Linked DNA regions of Homo sapiens: regions 2, 3 and 4 are each linked to region 1. The links come from fine-mapping of genetic effects on gene expression. A gene starts in region 1. Each other region holds a variant in brackets. All regions are shown on one strand. Distances are from middle to middle.

Evidence for each region.
Region 2: its variant is fine-mapped to the expression of HSDL1 in T cells (TOPMed, PIP 0.99). The same link has a PIP of 0.9 or more in whole blood.
Region 3: its variant is fine-mapped to the expression of HSDL1 in whole blood (TOPMed, PIP above 0.99).
Region 4: its variant is fine-mapped to the expression of HSDL1 in whole blood (TOPMed, PIP 0.99).

The regions. Positions count from the first base shown.
Region 1 is chr16:84,141,937-84,147,740 of GRCh38, forward strand. It overlaps HSDL1 (hydroxysteroid dehydrogenase like 1), which reads right to left and starts at 3,241. Exons shown (of 6, transcript NM_031463.5): 1 at 3,144-3,241. It overlaps DNAAF1 (dynein axonemal assembly factor 1), which reads left to right and starts at 3,372. Exons shown (of 12, transcript NM_178452.6): 1 at 3,372-3,628. The coding sequence starts at 3,505. RefSeq lists silencers at 2,666-2,715, 2,766-2,815, 2,976-3,425.
Region 2 is chr16:84,114,874-84,120,677 of GRCh38, forward strand. It overlaps MBTPS1 (membrane bound transcription factor peptidase, site 1), which reads right to left and starts at 2,069. Exons shown (of 23, transcript NM_003791.4): 1 at 1,862-2,069. It overlaps MBTPS1-DT (MBTPS1 divergent transcript), which reads left to right and starts at 2,170. Exons shown (of 1, transcript NR_186375.1): 1 at 2,170-4,290. It also overlaps the pseudogene LOC648774. RefSeq lists silencers at 1,560-1,989, 2,390-2,489 and an enhancer at 2,640-2,799. The variant G/A (reference allele first, on the strand shown) is at 2,026.
Region 3 is chr16:84,067,209-84,072,208 of GRCh38, forward strand. MBTPS1 (membrane bound transcription factor peptidase, site 1) reads right to left here. Exons shown (of 23, transcript NM_003791.4): 13 at 3,380-3,568; 14 at 2,658-2,830; 15 at 1,131-1,246; 16 at 459-615. Among named protein-coding and RNA genes, the nearest start is that of SLC38A8, 27 kb to the left of the region's middle. The variant T/C (reference allele first, on the strand shown) is at 1,905.
Region 4 is chr16:84,031,284-84,037,087 of GRCh38, forward strand. It overlaps SLC38A8 (solute carrier family 38 member 8), which reads right to left. Exons shown (of 11, transcript NM_001080442.3): 3 at 5,419-5,617; 4 at 2,045-2,186; 5 at 584-685. Among named protein-coding and RNA genes, the nearest start is that of SLC38A8, 8.6 kb to the right of the region's middle. RefSeq lists an enhancer at 1,692-2,192. The variant G/C (reference allele first, on the strand shown) is at 2,703.

The DNA of each region.
Region 1 (5,804 bases):
ATTATTATTGAGACAAGGTCTGGCTCTATTGCCCAGCCTGATGTGCAGTGGCATGATCACAGCTCACTGCAACCTCCGCCTTCCGGGCTCAAGCCATCCTCCCACCTCAGCATCTCAAGTAGCTGGGACACAGGCATGTACCACCAAGCCCAGTTAAATTTTTTTTGTGTGTGTAGAGATGAGGTTTCACCATGTTGCCCAGGCTGGTCTCAAACTCGTAAGCTCAAACCATTCACCTGCCTTGGCCTCCCAAAGTGCTGGGATTACAGGTGGGAGCCACTGCACCTGGCTGAATGTCTTAATTTTGAAAGAGACAAATATATCAATCTTTCTGCTTTAGGGTTTGTTTTATTTCAGAAATCCCTCCTTAGCCTCAGGTCATGAAGAAATTTTTTCGAATTATTTTCTAGAAATTTTACATTTTTGCTTTTTCAGTTTAAGTCTTTAATCCTCCTGGCGTTTTGTGATGGTGTGAGGCTGGGATCTCACACATCTTTTTTTTTTTTTTTTTTTTTTTGAGACAGAGTCTCACTCTGTCACCCAGGCTGGAGTGCAATGGCGCGATCTTAGCTCACTGCAACCTCCTCCTTCCAAGTTCAAGCAATTCTTCTGCCTCAGCCTCCCAAGTAACTGGGACTACAGGCGTGTGCCACCATGCCTGGCTAATTTTTGTATTTTTTTCTTTTTTAGTAGAGACGGGGGTTTCACCATATTGGCCAGGCTGGTCTTGAACTCCTGACCTTGTGATCCGCCCACTTTGGCCTCCCAAAGCACTGGGATGTGACCGGCCGGATCTCACACATCTTTAATATTCCTCCTCAGCACCTGACATGCTGCTGTAGACAACTTTATTTAATAAACAGAATCAAATACTGCTTTGTGTTCAAAGCTCAAATTTCACTCTTGAGAAAAAAACTTAAGCTTTTCATACTCTGCGTCAGCACTATGACAAAGTTAGCATTGGTGTATCAAGACTTTTTGGGATGTCTTTACCTTCACTGCCAATTTTTGGTATAGGACTAAACGCACAATGAAGCTGAGCCTAAAGAGCAGCAACATGGAATTAGAAACCTGGATTCTCATCCAAGATCCAACACTCTTCACCATCATGTCTGTATTTATGCAGTAAGAATTAAAATATTCAGAGTACCCCACTCCTAGGCAGATACCCAAGATAATTAGAAACTTTTGCTCACATAAAAACTCCTGCTTGCATGTTCACAGTGGCCTACTCACAACTGCCAGAAGGCAGAAACAAACAAAATGTCCATCAACAAATGAATGAATAAGCAAAATGTGGTGTTATCCACACAAAGGAGTATTATTCAGCCATAAAAAAGCATGAAGTACTGATACATACTACAACATGGATAAACTTTGAAAACATTATGCTAAAGGACAGAAACCAAATACAAAAGGCCGTATGTTGTATGTTTCCACTTGTATGAAATGTCCAGCATAAGCAAATCCATAGAGACAGAAGATAACTTAGGGCTGCTGAGGGACAGGGGGAGAAAAGAGGTATGACTGTTAATGGGGTTGGGGTTTCTTTTGTAGGTGATTAAATGTTCTGGAATTAGTTACTGGTGATGGTTGCATAGCATTGTGACTATAGCAAGAACTACTGAGTTATACACTGTAAAATGGCTAAAATGATAAATTTTATGTCATGCGTAAGTCATTTCGATTTTTGAAAACCTACTTTAAAAAAAAGTAGCACCAATATGTTCAACTCTGTTGCCCTAGAATATTCCAGCAGTGATTAAAACCACAAACTTGGCCGGGTACAGTGGCTCATGTCTGTAACCCCAGAACTTTGGGAGGCCAAGGCGGGCAGATCACTTGAGGCCAGGAGTTCAAGGCTACCCTGACCAACACAGCGAAACCCCGTCTCTACTAAAAAAAAAAAAAAAAAAATTAGCTGGGTGTGGTAGAACGTGCCTGTAATCCCAGCTACTCGGAAGGCTGAGGCAGGAGAATCACTTGGGCCCGGGGTGCGGGATGGCGGGCAGAGGTAGCAGGAGCTGAGATCGCAGGCACCATTGCACTACAGCCCGGGCGACAGAGCGAGATTGTCTGAATCAATCAATCAATCAACACCCTCCCCCTCCCCCTCCCTCTCCCTCTCCCTCCCTCCCTCTCTCTCTCTCTCTCTCTCCTGTGGCGGTCAGAGTAAAATTGAGAGCTCACTTTATGCAAAAGACTCTGCTAAGTGCTTTATTCCTATTGTCTCACTTTATTCTCTCATTAATCTTATAAAGCGCAGTCAGACTCTCCCGTTTATAGATGGGGAAATTGAGTCTTATAGATGTAAAGTCGCACACCCAAGACCCCACAACTCAGAAAGGGGCTACCTGCAATTCAGATGGAGGTATAGCAAGGCGCAGAGTCCTGTCCAGGGAGCCCACTGTGAGACCCCCCGACTGCCTCGCAGTCACCTGTACACATCATGTTGGGATCGCCGAGGGGCGCTGCAGCGATCCGGTTTCTGGGGCTGCGTCTGGGTGGCACGTTCAGAACGGGGACCTGCCTGGTTCTTCTTCCCAGCCCTTCCCCTCCAGCACCCGGCAAGGCCCAGTCAACACGAGCAAACTCGGAAATCCTGGCTGAACCCACGACCGCTGCATATTTCCATTTTAGAAAAACACGGCAACAACAACTCAAACCAAATCGTTCAGAAATGAGAATAAAGAAGCACCGACAAAGGAGGCGATTGCTGGGGCCGCTCGGGGGAGGAGCCGGGTGAGAGGCTGCAGGGAGGGCAGGGCATGCGCCGGCGACAACGGGGTTCGCGGTTTGGGGGGCAAGGCCCGGGGGAAGAGAGAGAACAGGGGTGCAGCGCCGCGGCGGGGGGCGTGAGGATGGAGCCGGGGGAAGGGGGGCTCTGAGATGTGAAGGGGCGGGGCTGGGGCTTTTTGGTCTGAAGGAAGGAGTCTCACGGGACGGAGGGACGAAGATTTCCTGGGGTCAGGGGCGCCAAGGGGCTTCGGGGCCGGATGCAGCGGAGGGGGCCCGGGGCCTGGGGGGCGTGGTGAGAGCTCAGAGGGGTCTCGCCAAGCAGCCGGCTGGCGCTGAGGGGACCGAGGAGGGGTCTGGGGCGAAAGGACCGCGAGAGGGCGCCCAGGGCGCGGGGGGCGCGGTACCTGCAGGCCGGCAAAGTCTTCCAAACCGGTCCCGCCAGACCCGCGCGGCCGCCGCCCCCGTCTCGGCCGCCGGAGCTGCTGCCGCGCCGCGCCCTCACGTGACCCGCGTACGCGCCGGGGGCGGAGCCGTCTCAGACCCGCCCCCACCCCCCGGCGTCCCCAGCGCGCCGGTCCGTCCCGAGTGCGCGTGCGCAGCGGTTGCCTGGGCGACCGGGGAAGCGTTGGGCTGTAAAGACTAGGGCGCCAGCGGCTGGCGAAGAAGGAAAGAGGGTACTCTCTGGCTGGGCTGGGGCCGTAGCGACGTCCGCCGCGAACCTGGGCCCCCCAAAGCTGCGGGGCGTTCGGTGTCGCCGAAGTAAACATGCACCCTGAGCCCTCGGAGCCTGCGACAGGTGGTGCAGCAGAGCTGGATTGCGCGCAGGAGCCCGGCGTGGAGGAGTCTGCGGGTGACCACGGGAGCGCAGGCCGAGGGGGCTGCAAGGAAGGTGCCGACTGCCCCCCAGGGAGGGCGGTGGGCGAGGGGCAGACACGGCTAGGCGCTCCAGCCCCCTTCCCACACCACATACCCGATCTTCACAGCCAAATAATAACAATAATAATAATGGTAGCAAGCAACGCTCTGCAGTAGGGGCTTCTCTCGCCATTTCGTACTGAGGAGGAAACATACTTAAGAGGTTACAAAACTTGCACCAAACAGATAACCCTCGGCTAGTCAGTGACAGAAGAGACTTGGCCGGGTGCGGTGGCTCAACGCCTGTAATTCCAGCACTTTGGGAGGCCGAGGCGGGCGGATCATCAGGTCAGTCAGGAGTTCGAGACCAGCCTGGCCAACATAGTGAAACCCTGTCTCTACTAAAAATACAAAAAATGAGCTGGGCGTGGTGGCGGGCGCCTGTAGTCTCAGCTACTTGGGAGGCTGAGGCAGGAGAATCGCTTGAACCCGGGAGGCGGAGGTTGCAGTGAGCCAAGATCTCGCCATTGCATTCCAGCCCGGACGACAGTGGGAGACTCCGTCTCAAACAAACAAACAAACAAACAAGCAAACAAAACCCACCAGACTCAGGCCCAGACAGTCTGGGTCTCCAGAGCCCCAGCCCTAACCCACCACGCTATTCTCCCTGGTCCCAACTTTGATGCTTTAAATGTGTCCCTTTATTGCTATCACTATGTAAGATCAAAGGCTTTCTCTCCCTCCAGACTGCATGTTGTGTCAGGGCAAGACATCTTGATTGAATTTGGAGTCTAGTCCAGTGCCTGACCTAGGGTAGAGAGTCCGAATGAAGACTTGGTTCTGGGGTCAGTGTGTGATCCCCTCACCAAAGTTTGCCAGAATGGACTTGAAAGATAACCTTCATGGCCAGGCACGGTGGCTCACGCCTGTAATCCCAGCAATTTGGGAGGCAGAGGCAGGTGGGTCACCTGAAGTCAGGAGTTCGAGACCAGTCTGGCCAACATATTGAAACCCTGTCTTTGCTAAAAACACAAAAATTAGCAGGGCGTGGTGACGTGCTCCTGTAATTCCACTTACTTGGGAGGCTAAGGCAGGAGAATTCCCTGAACCCCGGAGGCAGAGGTTGCAGTGAGCCAAGGGGGAGGCTGAGGCTGCAGTGAGCCAAGATCACACCACTGCACCCCAGCCTGGGCAATGGAGCAAGACTCCGTCTCAAAAAAAAAAAAGGAAAGAAGGAAGCCTGGCTTCAGCTTCTGCTCCCACTAGACTTGGTGCCCTAAAGGAAACCTTTTAGTGATTACATTAAAAAACCACTTGATTTGTGTTCCAGTTTCTGAACGCAGGCAACAAATAAACCAGCTGATTTGTGTTCCAGGCAACAAATATATCTTAAGCATCAACTGTCCAGATGAACCTTGTATGAGGAGCCATAGGGAACTGGCATTACTCAGTGGAAAGACACTGGTCTTGGAGCCATTGACACTGGGTTCAAGTTGAGGCTCAGCAGCTGGCCAGCTTTATGGCTGTTGGCCCAGAGCTTAACCTCTCGGAGCCTTAGTCTCCTCATCTGTAAGCTGGAATAATTATACAGGAGTATAAGGAGAGAATTATAATTAAATGTCCCAGCATATAGTGGGCCATTATTAAATGGTAGCTCTTGTTATTAATTACATATTAATATTTATATATTGAGCGCTTATTCTTTATTTTTTCCACAAACATTTATCTGTTGCTTCCTGTGGCTGGGCATTCTATGCAAAATTGATGAGTTTAAGAACCAGTCCCCACACGCACAGCCTTTAGTCTTGTTCAATAGACCACACAAACACAGAAAGCAGCAGACAACAGCTCTTAAAGTTAAGTGCGGTTGAATTGGCCAATTTTGAATGACCTTTAAAAAAATTATTCATTTGAATGTGCTCATGTTATTGTTATCATAGATATTCTCACTATTTTTGTTTCTTTTCATGTGATTTTCCTTTTTATGATTTTTTTTTTAAGAGATGGAATCTCACTATGTTACCCAGGCTAGATCTTCCTGCCTCAGCCTCCTGAGTAGCTGGGACTACAGGCATGCTCCACTACACCTGGCTTCAGAAATTTTTTAAAAGACAAAAGAACAAAGAACATTAAAACAAATACCCGTGTTTTGCCAGCAAGAATTGAAAATGAGTAACATTTTATCATATTTATTTGAAGTCTTTTTTAAT
Region 2 (5,804 bases), 27 kb before region 1:
AGCACTGATGGCAGCAATGTACAGTTCACCTTAGCCTTCAGTCTTCCAAGTTTTTTTTTGTTTTTTGTTTTTTGAGACATAGTCTCACTCTGTCGCCCAGGCTGGAATGCAGCGGCGTGATCTTGGCTCACTACAACCTCTGCCGCCTGGGTTCAAGGGATTCTCCTGCCTCAGCCTCCCGAGTAGCTGGGATTACAGGCGCCTGCCATTGCGCCCAGCTAATTTTTGTATTTTCAGTAGAGACGGGATTTCACCACGTTGGCCAGGCTGGTCTTGAACACCTGACCTTGTGATCCGCCCGCCTCGGCCTCCCAAATTGTGGGATTACAGGCGTGAGCCACCGCGCCCGGCCCAGCCTTCCTAGTTCTTGTTAACCTCCTGACTAGAAGAGCTCCCACTTCTTCCCTAGGTGCTTCAAAGGTTCCGCAAGCTCTGCATTGGAATTTTCCCTTTTTATATAGAAAGGACCAACTCTTGATTATACGGGGTGCCTGGGGAGTGCAGTCGTTTGACACGTGTCTGGGTCAGGTCCCAGCTCCCATTCTCAATCAACAGTTTTGCTGTCATCCGCATCACACATTAGAGCATAAAATAAACTTTTATTTGTCAAAAGTGTTCTGCATAAATGCTTAAACAAAATGTGGTATAGCCATACAACTGAATATTATTTGGTCATAAAAGGAATGAAATCCTGATTCATGCTACAACATGGATGAACTGTGAAAACATGCTAAGTGAAAGAAGCCTGACACAAAAGGCCGCATATCATATGTTTCCATCTGAATATACGAAATAGTCATTAAAGGCAAATCTAGAAAGACAAAGTAGATGAAAGGTTGCCTGTGGCGGGGCCTGGAAATGGGCATTGACTACAACTGGGCATCAGAGGTCTTGGGGTAACGGAAATGTTCTAAAAGTGGATTTGGTAGTGGCTGTGCTGCTGTAAATTTACTAAAAACCACTGAATAGTACACTTAAAACAGGTGGATTTTATGGTATGTAAATTCTACTTCAATGAAGCTCTTACATTAAAAAATAAGTATAAATAATAAAAGCGGATTCTCCAGATTGAAAAAAAAAAAAATGAGAGGAATTACTTCTCTTCTGCAAGCCCTCCTTTTCGTAGACATACAATTGGAGACCTTGACGTTAGGAGGGCTTACCTACACAGTTCAGACTAAAGGATGAGTCTCCAGAATTCAACGCAGGTCGTATTCCACTCCACGTAATTTCGAAGTGTCAATCAGAATCTAATAACTTAATTTGTGTAGACAAATAGGCCAAGATTCTCAGGGGCTCAACCCAATATGAAAGGTAAACATCTTAATAAAAATACTGACGATCCACAACGGTCTTAGGTAGCGCAACCATGCCAAGGCGAGGCAAGATTTTTAAGAAGCTACAGGTTTAAAAGGCAATCTGGTTCTGAGAGTTCGCCGAACAGAATCCCCGCATTTCCAAAAACCAGCAGCGCAATATGCACAGACCGAGATAAGGCAAAGAATCGACGTCTTTTAAACCTGACGCCAGCACTGCCCCGGAAGCGCACCTAGAATTGAGTCTGTCTGGAGGCTCCGGGCCAGAGCAGGGCGTATTGTTTCACTCGGTGAATGCTCATTTCACGTAAAGAAAACCAGGCAACGGAACAAGCTGCCGGAGCGCGCAGACCCCCGCAGGGCCGCGGTACAGGCACGCTGTGTCCAAACAAGCGCCGGAGGCCCCGCGCCCACCTCCCCCGACCCGGCCCGGCCCCCGCAGCCCTCGCCTCGGGGCCTCGGACGCAACCGGCACACCTGAGCGAGCGGGCCGCCGCCGCTAGGCGGAGCGGGTCGGGGAGGCCGCGCGCGGGCGGCTGACGTACCTGCGCCGCCGGGAGCTCAGGGCCGGCGGGCCCGGGATAACGGCGCCTCCGCGGCGAACACGCCTGGGCACTCCATTCGGGGCTGTTTACTCCCAACTCTCGCGAGACTGGGCGACCGGGCCAGCGAGGCCCACAGCTGGGAGCCTCAGCTCCGCCGACCCAGC[G/A]TGCCCTGTCTGTCCCGCGCTCCCGGGGCTTGCGTGCGCGCTCTGGACGCCGTGGGCAGCGGGACCACGCCGGGAGGATGGACGAAGGTCTCGCGACATTTGCGGCGGCGGGGGCCGGTGGCAGGGTGGAAGCGGAGGGGCGTGGCCAGCGAGCTGCCAGGCGGCGAGAACGCGCTGGGGGAACCCTTGGTCCGCTCTGCGCGTCGCTCTAGGATCCCCGAAAAGGAGCACGGGCGCGAAAGCGGCCAGGCTGGGCCAGGATCTAGAAAGACTGCCTGGCGCAGGCTCCCTGCCCCCGCGGGCCTGCTGTCATGGACTCGTGGAGAGCTCGCTTCCCGCGCGGACCCTTCCTGCAGGGGTCCACGTCCAGGCACCGGCGGCTCGGACACCCCACCCCCGGCCGGGCACCTGCCCTGGGTGCCCCTTAACCCGGGCGGTAGCTCGTTAAGATGGCGAAGTGTCCGGTCCGGAACACGCGAAACCCCAAATCCCGCCTGCCCGACCTCCTGACCCCCGGCCCCACGGGACGACAGACTGGGCCTCCCGACGCGCAGCGCGCTGCCGGGACACCGGTGCGTGCGAAACGGAGGACCTTTGTAACGCCACGTGTTTGCTCTTTTTGAAAAAACAAGAATAAATGTGTTAAACTGTCTGAAAAGCTTGCCGCCTAAAAGATGTCTGGGTGACTTAGATGCTAGGATCAGTTTGTTTTCAATGTAAATGGACCAGCCCGGACTCCGTACGGCACTAGCAGGGGACTGAAAGCGTCTTCAGGTACTGCTGGTGGGCGGTGATGCGCTACAGGCCGATCAGACAGTTTTGTGTCTTTTGGAACTTGACACTGCACCACGGTAATGCTGAACTGCACCAATATTACAGATCACAGCGCATCATCTTCCTTCAACATGATTTAACACAGTTGACTTAATATGGTGGATAAATGTAGAATCACAAATTACCATACCCCACCTCAGGCTTCTACTTCGTAATTTTGAGCAGGTTGTTTAACCTCTTTGTACCTCAGCTTCTTCATTACAAAAATAGGGGTACTAGCCAGGCGGGGTGGCTCGCGCCTGTAATCCCAGCACTTGGGGAGGCCGAGGCAGCCGGATCACTTGAGGTCAGAAGTTTCAGACCAGCCTGGTCAACATGGGTGAAACGCCGGCTCTACCAAAAATATAAAAACTTAGCTGAGTGTGGTAGCGCATGACTGTAATCCCAGCAACTCAGGAGGCTGAGGCAGAGAATCGCTTGAACCTGGGAGGCGGAGGTTGCAGTGAGCTGAGATCGTACCACTGCACTCCAGCTTGGGCGACAGAGCGAGACTCTGCCTTAAAAATAAATAAATAATTTTTTTAAAAAATAGGGGTACTAATATCTACCTTAAAGGATGAGGGTTAAATTAAGTACACACATAAGCCCTAGCGCAGTGGCTTATGCCTGTAATCTCAACACTTTGGGAGTCTGTGGCGGGAGGATCACTTGAGCCCAGGAGTTTGAGACTAGTCTGGGCAACAGAGACATGTCTCTATAGTTGTGTTTGGTTTTGTTTTTACCAGGTGTGGTGGTGTGCACCTGCAGTCCCAGCTACTAGGGAGGCTGAGGTGGGAGGACTGCCTGAGCCCAGGAGGTCGAGGCTGCAGTGAGCCATGATTGTGCCACTGCACTCCAGCCTGGGCAACACAGCAAGACCTTGTCTCAAAAACAAACAAAAAGCATACTCATAAAGTGCTCGGCTCCTATATGATTCAATATGTGGTGGTGGATTCTTGAATCCTTTCCTGACTCAGATCTCATACGATTTTCTGAACTTTTGGAGAATCCTTGCCTCTCTGCATTTGCAAACCGTCAAAGGCACTCCCTTCTGCCACCACACAAAGCATTTGATTTTAAACTTGACTATGTCCTTCTGTTCCAACTTTAGGTAAATTAATCTTGGTCAGGGTTCTCTGAACAGCCCTTTAGTCACTATGCCATTGAATACATGGCCCTACAGCTGGAAACTGGGGTAGAACAGTGATTGCAGGCATCCATCATGTGACAGCGAGGCCCCAAAGAAGGGGAGAGAATGCCACCACCACCAGTTTCAGAGAATGCCTATACACTGAGGGGACTGGTGTGTGGGAGAGAAGTTACTTGGAGAGCTACCAAGACAGCCTGAGCTACAGGATCCTGGTCTACCACTGGTGGATTCCCACCACTCTGGTTCTAAAATAACTTCCTAAACTTGTGCTTCACATACAGAATAAAGCATCTGTAATTCCATGGGAAGGTAAATCTTTATTCAAATGAAATGTTATTTTAAAGAGTAATAGCTGATGGCACAGGCACTAGCCAACCCTGGGAAAGCCTCCCTGGAGTTGTGGCTCCTGGAGTCCCAGCAGCCACTCTGCAGAGATCTTGGAGGTCCTAGTAAACCTGCCGGTGGCACTACAGGCAGGCTGCTTTTTTGGCAAGGGTGGCTTTGCTGAGAGCATCAAAATCTTGGAGGCAAACACCAAGGAGGTGTTCTCGGGCAAGATCGCACCTGAGTCACTGCTGCTCAATCCGCACCCAGAGGAGACGTCCCTGGAGACGTCTCCAGCCTCTCGCTATACTCACTGCAGCCTCGCCCACCAGCACATCTCAGGTGTCAGTGGCTTTTTCAAGGACAACTTCATGCTCCTGGTGCTGGAGCTCTGCCACCTGAGACCTCTCATGGAGTTGCACACGGGGAGAGCGCTAAGCCTGAGGGCACTACTGCCCGCAGTAGATCATCCTTGGCTGCCGGCACCTGCCTGAAACTGGATTAGTCACCGGGACCTCAAGCTGTACCCCCTCTTCCTGAATGATGACCTGGAGGTGAAAACGGGAAGATCTGGACTGGCAACCAAAGTCGAACATGATGGAAGGCAGAGGAAGACCCTGGGTGGGACTCCTGATTATGTAACTCCCAGGGTGCTGGGAAAGAAAGGGCACCGTTTCAAGGTGGATGTGTGGTCCCTTGGGTACATCACATATACCTTGTTAGTGGGCAAACCACCTTCTGAAACCTCTTGTCTAAGAGACCTACCTCTGGTCAAGAACACACACACTGTTCCCAAGCACAGCTACCCAATGGCCACCTCCCTCATCCAGAAGATACTTCAAATCCGACAGCACTCCCAAACCCCTGAGAAGCTGCTGAATAACGGGTTTTTCACATCTGGCTCCAGCCCCTCCCATCTCCCCATCATCTGCCTCCCATCGCACTGAGGTTCTCAATCCCTGCCAACAGCCTGGACCCTGGCAACTGCAAGCTTCTTGTGATCCTCAAGGCATGGAGAACCCCTGCCTGAGCAGCCCCAGGAAAAAGAGGAACCAGTGGCTTAGGGAATGGGACAGACGGTCAATGCCACTGTGGTGACATGCTGCAGCAGCTACACAGCACGGGCTGGTGAGGCAAGAGGAGGCTGAGGATGCCACCTGCATCCCCAGCTTCTGGGTCAGTGAGCAGGTAAACTGTTCCAACAAGCACAGCCTAGGGTATCAGCTGTGTGACAACAGTGTCACACATGCCTTATCCTCGACAACACCGTGACAGCCTGCAGTGCCTACGGTAGTGCTCCCTTATCCGAGGGGACATGTTCCAAGACCTCCGGTGGATGGTCTTGGGACTCACCGTGGCTGGAACTTTGGCAGTTTGAGGTGTGACAGCAAAACTAGCATGAATTTCTTTTTCCTTCTTTCCAATGTCATGGAGAGATTTGTTTTACTGCAGATCTCAGCAACTTCAGCATACAATGTTTTTCTTTCCTTAT
Region 3 (5,000 bases), 75 kb before region 1:
ACCTGAAGTATCTCATATCTAAGATTAACAAGGAAAGACAATGAACCCTCTATATTATTAACAGTACTCATACTCAATAAACATCTTACTCTATGAGCAACTTTCAAGAACCTCTCTACTGTATAAAGGACTATTTTCTTTTTTGTGTTTTATTTTTTCTCTTTGAGATAGGGTCTCTCTGACACCCAGGCTGGAGTACAGTGGCTTGATCTCAGCTCACTGCAGCCTTGGCCTCCCAGGTTCAACCGATCTGCCCAACTCAGCCTTCCAAAGTGCTGGGATTACAGGCGTGAGCAACCGCACTCAGTCGAAAGGGCTTTTTTTCTAATCAAGCTCTCTGAATGTGTCTGTGCCAACTGGAAAGACCACCAACAGGTCAAATCATCACTTAAGTATTTGCTGGGTAGAATTTGATTCCCCAAAAGTCTTATCCAAATACCAATGCGTATCAACAGTACCTTGTGTTTTCATCATAAAACTTCACTTTTCTCATAACAGAAGTGTTGTACCAGTCACTGAAGATGACGAGCGAGAGGCCGTTGTCCACGTCCCTCCGGAGCTTGGCGATCTCTTCAGGGAAGTACTCCTCCTCACTGTCCACCATCAGCAAAGTGCCTGATGAACAAAGAACCAAAGCTGGGAACTGTCACTTCTGAATGACAGGACACCACCACGGCAGAAACAGTGTCACCAGGTACATGTCTCAGGTTACTGACACCTAACAGTCTGGTTTGTGCCACCCTGTACCACTTTAAAAGGGACTAAAAAGTAGAGGACCAGGATCCAGCAATACACAGCGACTAACTGTGATCTGATTTCACTTGTGGTGCTCAGGATAAAGATTTTCATTCACTTGAGAAGGAGCAAAATATATAGCAGAGCTGCTTTTAACTTAAAGAAAAAAGAGTACGAATGTCCCTGTCTCCAATCAGCCTGTCTTGTATTTCAGCTGAATGTCACACCGCCACCACCTGTTTCAGAGCCTCGCCCCAGGCTCACCCAGCTGTGGGGCCCACGGCGCATACTCCCTTGGTAGCTATCACTGAAAACTGGGATTCACTCCTCAGACATTTAACAAACATCCAAAGTGGGCGGAAAGACCATCTGGCTAGCACAGCAGTGCCACTTACCATACTGACTGGCATCAAAACACGTGAAGGGGGCCCCGAGGACCTCTACAAAGTAGCCCATGCTTCTCAGATGCTGGTACATATCCCTGAAATTGGTGTGGATGTGATCACCATTCCTGAAAAACAATAGGCCACAGCATTAAAATGATCGATCTTTACTGGCAATAAAGGCATATCTGGCCACAGGGCCGGCTCTGCAAGAGCACCATGCCATGGCCCACAGAGAAGGCCTGGATGGCTGGCCCACTGGCACAGGCATCAGCTTAGGAGACCTGTGTGCTCTGGTCTGGACACACGGAAATGGCTGATAAGAAGAAACCATGTGCCTGGCAGGTGCATGAAAGAGACAAAATGACCAGAAGAAATGGCCAAAGACATGTTTAATGTGTCCTGGACCATCACTGTAGCAGTCGCGTTCAAGTAAATTGCTGGCAACCATCTGTGTCTGACAGAAGAGCTTAGCAAATAGCCGCGGGAGTGCAGGGACGCTGGAACAAGCCACGCAGGGCCACGGTGCTAAGACAGCGGCACAGCTAACTGATATCACTGCCACTGGTCAACTTTCCATCCCCGTCCCTCCCAAATGAGCTCACTTTCCTATGGGACACTGTATACACCCTCTAGGGGTCACCTCATTCTCACCTCCCAGCAGCACAGACTCCAGGTCCTCTCCTGCAGGCCAACGGGCTTGCCTTGGTCTATGAACTTCCCACCACTTCCTGTCTACCCGTCTCTGGTCTGAGCCCCTCCAATCTGGCTGCCAGAGACATCTTA[T/C]TTTAAAAGGCAAGTCTGACTCTGTAACTATCCTGGTCACATCTTTCAATGCTTCCCCTTCCCCTACTTTCAGCATGGAGTTCAAACGTAGTCCAAACATAAAAGCAGAAATGAGCTTGGCTAATGCACCAAGAGAAAGTCAGCCCAGCTGCCCTGCAGGGAACAGGCACAGGGAGAGCGGCTATGGGGACTGCGGGGGAAGCAGTGCCAGCTTCTGAAGGGCTGCATGGGTCACACCAGGGGGCTTGGCCGGGTGAGGAAGTCAGAATAGGCAGTCACTGGAGAGCTTGAGGCAAACTGTGTTAGAATTTGTTTTAAGATTACCAAGGTTGCCAGAAGAGGAGTGGAATTTAGGGCAACAACAGCAACAGCAGTGGCACTCAGGAGCTGCTGATGTGGTCCAGGCAAGAGATGACAATGGCATGGACTAGGGTGGGAGCAGGGAGAAGGCCAGAGATGGAAGGATCCAGGATGCAGTTTGAGGGTAAGACTGACAGCTTTGCTGACTGGCGCAATGGGAGAAGGAAGGAAAAGAGAACTTCAAGCTTTTTACTGCATAATCATACTTGTGAAAGTTTCAAAAGAGAAGTCAGGCTGCCCTAAGTGCATGGCAAAAGCCTGAACATCTCAGCGTCATCAGAGTCCAGGCTCCACGAGAAGCTGAGCAACATCTTTCCAAGAGTTGCGGGAACAGTGGTGCCTCCTCCCACCACGGAGGCTGGGGAGGTGAAGTGCATCCTGTGAGGTGCTTACCAGTCTAAAGGGTCATTCTTCATCCTTAAATTATCCCTGGGGAAATAGCCAGGTGGATAGCGGAGGTTGTGGTACTGATCCCAGAGAACTCTCTTGCTTCGCGGGGGAGTAGGAATTATCTTCACCTTAATGGGGAGCTTTACTGTTGAAGTCTGTTCTGCACCATTTTTTGACTAAAAAAAAAGAAAAGAAACTTGAAACGCCCTCATTGTGCAGAAAGAAACTTTCAGGTTTGAAAACATCATTTCTATTTATCAACTTAACCTAAATAATTTGAACACAAGAATTTCCAATAACAAATGTCTGATGAAAGATTCATGTATCATAACTAAGTCCATTCAAACACTTAAAGAGTTTAACAGTTAAAATTTAAGGCATATTCTATCAATAAAAACTACTAGAGCCTCATAGGATTAACCCTACATTTCCTTTTAGAGAATGTATATTTTTGGTGCACTCCTTTTGAGCTTGAAATCTGGTAGAAAACAGTCTTCTCTGCTGTTGTGTGGCCACAGAACGGCAAGCCCTAGCACTCACTGACTGAGCTACTTCTTCAAACTCCAGCTGCTCCGGAGGCCCTGGAACCATCAATTGTGGCCATCGAGGATAAGCCTATCTGTCAACTGTACTTCCAATGGAGACCCCAGGCATTTGGCCTGTCCCTCCCTGAAAGGTGATGTCAAACAGCTAAGAAAACAAGCCACTTTCCCGCATATCCCTACCTCTGTCTCTGCTGGGGAAGCCACAGTGATCATGACATGGCCCTGAGCAATGCCTTCCCAGGAAGCCGCTTTCTTGGTCACAGAAATGGAGATGGCCAGGTAGCCCGACCAAGGCCATAAGACCGAGGAGTAGGAGAAGGCAACTTCAATGTTGTCTCCGTTCTGTGGCAAATAGGGCTGCCAGTCAGGCTGCAGGAAAAAGAAATCAGACAAAGGCTAAAGTGAAAAGCTCCAGGAGAAAACACGTGGAAACCAGAAAAACTCAATTCTTACCAAAACTGGTTCCGAGAAATACTTCACTAAATAGGGAAAAATAAAATTTATACACAGATACTAAGTAACTACAACCAAAGTAGCCTATGGACTGCCTCGGACGTATCACTAGAAAAGTCTAGAAACCACTATTTCTGACAGCTTCCAATTTTATGGAGACATTTTTTTTCTATTATAAAACAGGAACTTTTGTCAAAAGTTCTTTGATGAAAAACTTCATCTGACTAAGAGAACTTATATAGATGAAAACTCTCAGATTTAAGGTTATTTCCCAATTAGTTGTATGCTTTAAAAAAATCCCATTAATTGAAAGCAGTAACATGACAGGGACACCAGCTGTCCCGAGTCACATTCTGAAGCTGGAAAGAGGTGGCCGGAGGGAGGACTGGCTCAGCTGCGAGATGACCACCCTTCTACCCTCCAGGTGGGAGAAAAGCAGAAAGGGAAGCGTGAGCAGAGGCCATCTGGAAGAGACGTCAATGAGAGCTTGCAACTAACCGGTATTTCAGACGAATCTAAATTACTCATTTCCCTCCACAATCCACACAGCCAGAACTTACTTCCCAAGTAAGCCAGTGGGTTAAGAAAAAAGTATGAAAAAGAAAAATATCTGTAGGATACGGTGTCCCAAATAATGAGGAAGAAAAGGGATTTTTAAAGAATGCTCTTGGAGCCACTGGTTCCCAAGTGAAAAACTTTCGCCCATCTCTTGTAACACATCAAATTAACACAGATGAAACAATTAAATATTTAACAATCATATACATAAAAATTAGTAGAAAAATAAAATGGAAATTTTATTATCTCTCTGGAATGATGTTTCCATCTGCAAAACAATAAAAGTCACAAAACATAAAAATTCAACTACATGAAATGTAAAACTTTTACAGAAGGAAAAAAATCCCCACCACAGTAAGTAATATTAAAGGGAAAAGAGCATCACCTGGAGGAACATTTTGCTGAACACACAGCAATGGTGAATTTCTCTATGACAGGGCGATCATGTTAGGATTGATAGAGAAAATCCCAATTCCAGGAGAAAAATGGGCCAACGAAATCAACGTGTAACTCATACAAGAGGAAACAGAATTCGTAAACACAACCAAAGATACCCACCCCACAAAGAACTGAAGTGCACATTACACAAGGCGCCCGTTTTACCCCCATCTAAGCTGAAAGCTGAAAGATGTACCACCTAGAATAGCCAAATGCCCAGCAAGAGATGAACGGAGAAACGCCATGTGGCCGACCCGCCCAGTGGAGCACTACTCCAACACAGGAAGCAGCGCGGCACTGACAGCACTACGGCGTGGACAAACTGTGAAAACCTGAGGCTGAGGGAAGGAAG
Region 4 (5,804 bases), 110 kb before region 1:
ACCTGCCTCAGCCTCCCAAAGTGCTGGGATCACAACTATGAGCCACCACACCCTACCTAGAGTGACCCTTTCTAAAAACAAATCCTGTCACATCCCTGCTGTACTCAAAACACTGCCAAGTCTCCCAACTCATCCAGAGCAAAACCAAACTCCTCGCCGTGGCTCTGAATCCCTGTACGACATCCCCGCCCATGCTCTCTGCCCTTGTTCCGGCTGGCTTGGCCACACCGGCCTCCTCACTGTTCCCCTGCCCCGGTACATGCAGCTGGATGGCTGCCAGATTCTGTACCTCCACACTGTGGGGACAAGTCTGCAATAACCTATGACCCCTAGGCCGCCGCAGCCTTTGGCGGTTCTGCGTCCCTTGGCCTGTCCCGGTCATCGCTAGCCACGGCCAGGTCCCTGCAGCAGAAGGAGAGTGGCCCTCCCTTGCCTTCACCGCATCAGAGACGGAAAGAACTGGAAGGAAGGAGCCCAGGCTCTGCAGTGAGCCACGAGAGGCTCCTCCTCCAAGACTCCCCTCACAGACTCCCCTGCCGTGCCTCCCCGCCGAGGCTGCCGGAAGCTGTTCCCTCAGACTTACCTCAGTGAAGGATGGGACTCACGCACGAGGCCCTGGGGCCAGAGGTAGTACTGCACGGTGATGACCAGGGCCAGGTAACAGGCAGCCAGAGTGCCTAGGATGCTAACACAGTGACCGTGTGAGGGGCTGCGCAGTGGGTGACATGTGCGGTTGATGCACGGGGACAGTAGTGGGATCTGAATCCCAGCTCCGCCCTTGACAATGAGGTGCTGGCCAAGCTGTCCACCTCTGCCTCACCATCCTCATCTGTACAGGGGGCATGTGGGGCAGGGCTGCTTTGGGGTCAAGGGGTCAGATGTAGAGTTTTGTTGTTGTTGTTTTGTTGTTGTTGTTGTTTTTTGAGACGGAGTCTCGCTCTGTTGCCCAGGCTGGAGTGCAGTGGCGCAATCTTGGCTCACTGCAAACTCTGCCTCCCGGGTTCAAGCAATTCTCCTGCCTCAGCCTCCCGAATAGCTGGGATTACAGGTGTCCGCCCCCACGCCTCGCTAATTTTTGTACTTTTAGTAGAGACAGGGTTTCACCGTGTTGGTCAGGCTGGTTTTGAACTGCTGACCTCGTGATCTGCCTGCCTTGGCCTCCCAAAGTGCTGGAATTACAGGTGTGACGCCCAGCCCAAATGTGTAGAATTCTTAATGGCACCCGGCGCCCTTCGGGATGGCAGCTGTAATAGTGTTTCCTTCCCACCAGCAAAAGCTAATCAGCCACTCAGCCTGATGCCTAAGGCAGGACGCCAGCAGGCTCGCTCACACTTGAGAGGGGACAAGCCGCCCCCTGGCTTGGTCTGAGTGGCACGAGAGCCTTGCAGGGCAGAGACCTGAGGGAGGCTCGGGTTTGCTGCCTGCTGTTTCTATACAATGTCTATTGTTCATACACAACAGGGAAAAGGCAGGCAGCAGAGGGAGATGGATACTGTTTCCAAGCTTTATTTCTTCCTAAGTATACAGACCCTTAGCCACAAAAAAACAACCTCTGTGTGTGTGCACACATGTGCGTGCATGGGCACGGGGACATGCGGGGATGGGGGTGCATGTGTGGGTGGGTGAGCATGGGTGGGTGTGGGTACGTGGGTGTGCATGGGTGGGTGTGGGTAGGTGGGTGTGCATGGGGGGGTGTGGGTAGGTGGGTGTGCATGGGGGGGTGTGGGTAGGTGGGTGTGTATGTGTGGGTGTGGGTAGGTGTGTGTTGTGGGGAGGCGTCTCTCTCTCTCTGCAGCCATGTGCAAAAAATCCAACAATGAAATAAACTGAGTAGCACTGACGTTGTTACAGGTCATTTTCTTCTTTAGGCTCATCTATGTTTTGCATCATGCATACATTTTACTTGTATAATTTTTTTTTCGTTTTCCCCTTCTCCAAATGTGAAGGCCAATTCCCCAGCTCCTCTGACCCCAGATGGACAGAAACCCTGACACAAACACTCAGCAAGGTGGGGGCCCCCACCAGGCAGCATCCCAGCCCTTACCTTGTGTATTTCTGGAAGGCGATCTCCCGCGGGGCAGACAGGGGCAGGATGACCAGCACGGAGAGCAGGGGCAGGGTGAAGCGCTGGTCTGCGTACCACGGCTGCGGGGCGGGCGGGGTGCCAGACAGGAGGGAGTCACACACTGCCAGAGACACGGGGAGAGCTGAGCCACAGAGTACAAATGCCGTGGGTTCTCGGCTCCCACCTGGCCCTTCAACCCTGGCTGGGGTTGGACATCCACCCTCAGCCAGCCCCAGGAGCCCAGGGATCAGACGACAAGTGAGATGGAGACAGGTCACGTGCCCCACGCAGGAACAAACCCTGACACATGAATTCATTCAACAAACATTCGCTGGGCTCCTTCCCCAAGCCCAGCACTGCTCTAAGGCCCAAGATGAGGCGATGACCAGACAAGCCATCTGCCCTCGTGCCCCTTACATTCTGGTGAAAGACTCTTTTGGTTTCGTTCGGGAACTCAATAGTATCTGGAGTCAAATGGGGGCCTGAAGTCGATTTTTGGCCACCGTGCCGTCAGCAACAGGCTGCTGTGCATGAGCATTGTAGGTCCTCATGGTTGCAGCAGAACACATGACCCCAAATGCAGTGGCTCAAAACCACTTTATTACAAGTCATGGATCGTAGGTAGAGAGTTAGTACA[G/C]GGCCAGGCTGGCCAATCCTCCTCCATATAGAATTGGCTGAGGTTGCTTGGGGGGTCTCTGGCTGGCAGTGGGGCTGGTCTGGAGGAACCCTGATGGCTCCCCACAACACCTACTGCCTGATGGGTACACCTGGGCCTTCCCTGCAGTCTGGGAGTCTCTCCACATGGGCCACCTAGCAGGCACCTCCAACTTCTTCCATGGCAGCTGGGGGACCCCAGAGACTGAGGCAGAAGCTGCCTGTCCTCTTAAAGGCCAGACCCAGAATGGGCAGTGTCTCATTTGCCACACATTGCTGGACAAAGCCATCCAGGCACACCTAATTCAAAGGCAAGGGACACAAGCTCCACTAACCTCTCCGTGGAAAGAACACCAAAGAATGTGGGGCCATTTTTATTCTGCCACAGTGGGATGAATGATTTGGAACCCATCTAAGAGGTAAGACAGATGGGGGAGGGGAAAGCACAGGCGAGTGGGAGGGTGGTTGGAGGTGGGAGCCACTGGGAACCACCTGGGTGGGTGAGGTGGCCCCTGCAACCACTGGAGATGGGAGGCCGAGGAGCTTGAGATGTCTTCGCTCCTTCGGTGGGTTGTTGGCCCTGAGGTGTCTTAAGTGCTTCTTTGTTCTCACTCAACAAGGGGAGCCATGTGAAAAAATGAATGCATGTGAGAATAGCTCAAGCGTACGAAATGATGAAGGGGAAAGTTCCAAAAGCAGGTGGTCACAGCAGCATCCACGTGGGAGAGCCGAGATGCCAAGGGACTGCACATGCCCCAGGACTGCACCGAGATCGTGGGTGAGTTTTAGACCTCCAGGTGGCGTGGGATGGGGCAGGCCCTTTGTCTGCATCTGGACCTCCCATAGCCAGGATCCTCAGGGCCAACAGCAGGACTGTACCAGCTCCTTCCTAAACCCAGCGTTCCCGGATGCTTGAGATCTTTGGCACCAAAGACATGGTCAATTGTACCTCGTGCCATGACTCCCCCAAGCACTCCAACCTCTATCTAGCACTCCGTCTCAGAAGCTTGGCCTTCCCTACAGAGAGGCATCCCCAAATATCTAACCAGATATACACAAGAACGCTCTCTCCACCACAGTCAATCAACCCAGACCTGGGGTGGCCCGTATCCTCATCCGTCCTCTGACTAGTCAGGGGGCTCCGCTCCCAGTGAGGCTCAGAATCCTTCTTAACACAGCAACGCTACCAGTTCAGTGGAGTTGAAACTGCAGACGAACTCTACTTGCCACTGTGGGGGAGCAGGACGTTTTTGTGCCCACTTACCCATTAAGAGGTTCAGATACGCCAATCTCACTTCTTCTTGGTATAAGGTCGTGTTTACCAAGACACAGCAGCCTTCAATCTCAATACCCCCCAGTCAGGGGCCTTTTGCTTCATGGGTCAAGAGACACACAGAACACACACATGGCAAAATGGTACACTAAATTTCACCCTATCAACAATCACATGCCAATTAAAAGTCTAAACATTCCAATCGGAAGTCTGAGACTGTCAAGTTGGATAAAAAAGCAAGACCCGACCATATGCTGCCTACAAGAAATGCATTTTAAAATCCCAAGCCATTCTCAGGCTGGTGTTGCAAAAAGGACATATAAACACATTTAACAAAAAAATAATCCAAGTCATAGTTAGATTCTAAGTCAAAGAATGAGAAGAGAACTTCTATACAAACACTAGTCTTAAGGATGCTAGAGTGCCTCTATTAATGGTAGAGAAGACAGATTTAATGCCAGAGATAAAGAATACTTCATAATAAAAGGATATACCTAGAGTTTCAAAGACCACGAACCATGAAGCTTGACAGAATAGGCTAATCTGCAATCGCAGCTGGCGATTTTAACATCCTTTAACATCCTTCTCTTAGGAATAGAATAACTAGACCTAAAGATTAATATGGTTGCAATGACGATCTGAACACAGCTGTTGACTGCCTTGACCTAATGGACATTGCCAGCACACTGTACCCAGCAACTGCAGAGTACACATTCTCTGAAGAGCACACAAAGTGTTCTCCAAGACAGACCATGTGCTGGACTACAGAGCCAGTCTCACTGGATCTCAAAAGACAGCAATGATACAGACTCCCTGACCATGATGCAAATTAAGGTCGAAACCGTGAAGGAATCTAAAAAACTCCTCAATAATTGTCAATTAAACACTACAATTCTAAACATCTCACAAGTCAAAGAAACCACAGTGAAAAGGAGCAAATATTTTAAATTTTCCATTCATGAGGAATGAGTCCAGTGAAAATGAAAATAGGACATATGAAAATTGGCAAGATGCAGCTAAAGCAGTGCTTAGAGGGAAAGTCTTAGTCGGGAACTCGAGGCCAAGGTTGGTGAGGGCTCAGAGCCACAGCCATTCCAAAGCTAAAGGTGTTACTGGTTCTTTCTCAGAAGGAGCTGCTTGCTGTTGGCTCCATTTACTCATCTGTGAAACGACTTATCTCCACTGGATATCCTAATTGCAGCCACAACCTCTCTCATGCACTTGTGTGCCCATGACTGTCACCCAACTGGTGACTATCCATTCGGAGCCTCCCTTCCCTACCATGTTAGGAACAAGAGTGTGGTTTCAGCCTCTGCTGTCCCTCAGGGCCCAGGCCAGGGCCCCACGTCCTGCTCAACTGGAAACTCCAAGAGGTCATTAGAGGTCCGGCACCCTGGGCCACCCCGAGTCCCATGAAGGTACTTACGCTTCTCCAGCTGGTCCCCGATCACCCTGAGGAAGGCCACGGAGATCATGAGCAGGTTGAGGAGGAAGCAGGCCTCACACAGCTTCCCAATGGCAGGGCCACACAGCCCCCTGACCACACCCTGGTAGGTGGCCTGGCCACTGACAGCAGCAGCATAGCCCAGGATGACCAGCCCGCTGATCAGGAAGACCAACGAGACCTGCGGAGAAGGAGCAGGACCTGGAACTGGGGTGTGCCCACAGCCCACCCACCCCCAGCCAGCCACCCCTCGGGCACACTCTCCACATGGCTTCTCATCCACAGAGGCCAGGGCTGCTGCCAACATGGGGTTGGCAGTCTACCAGCTATGTCACTGCACACACCCCCACCCCACCCCACCTATCCTG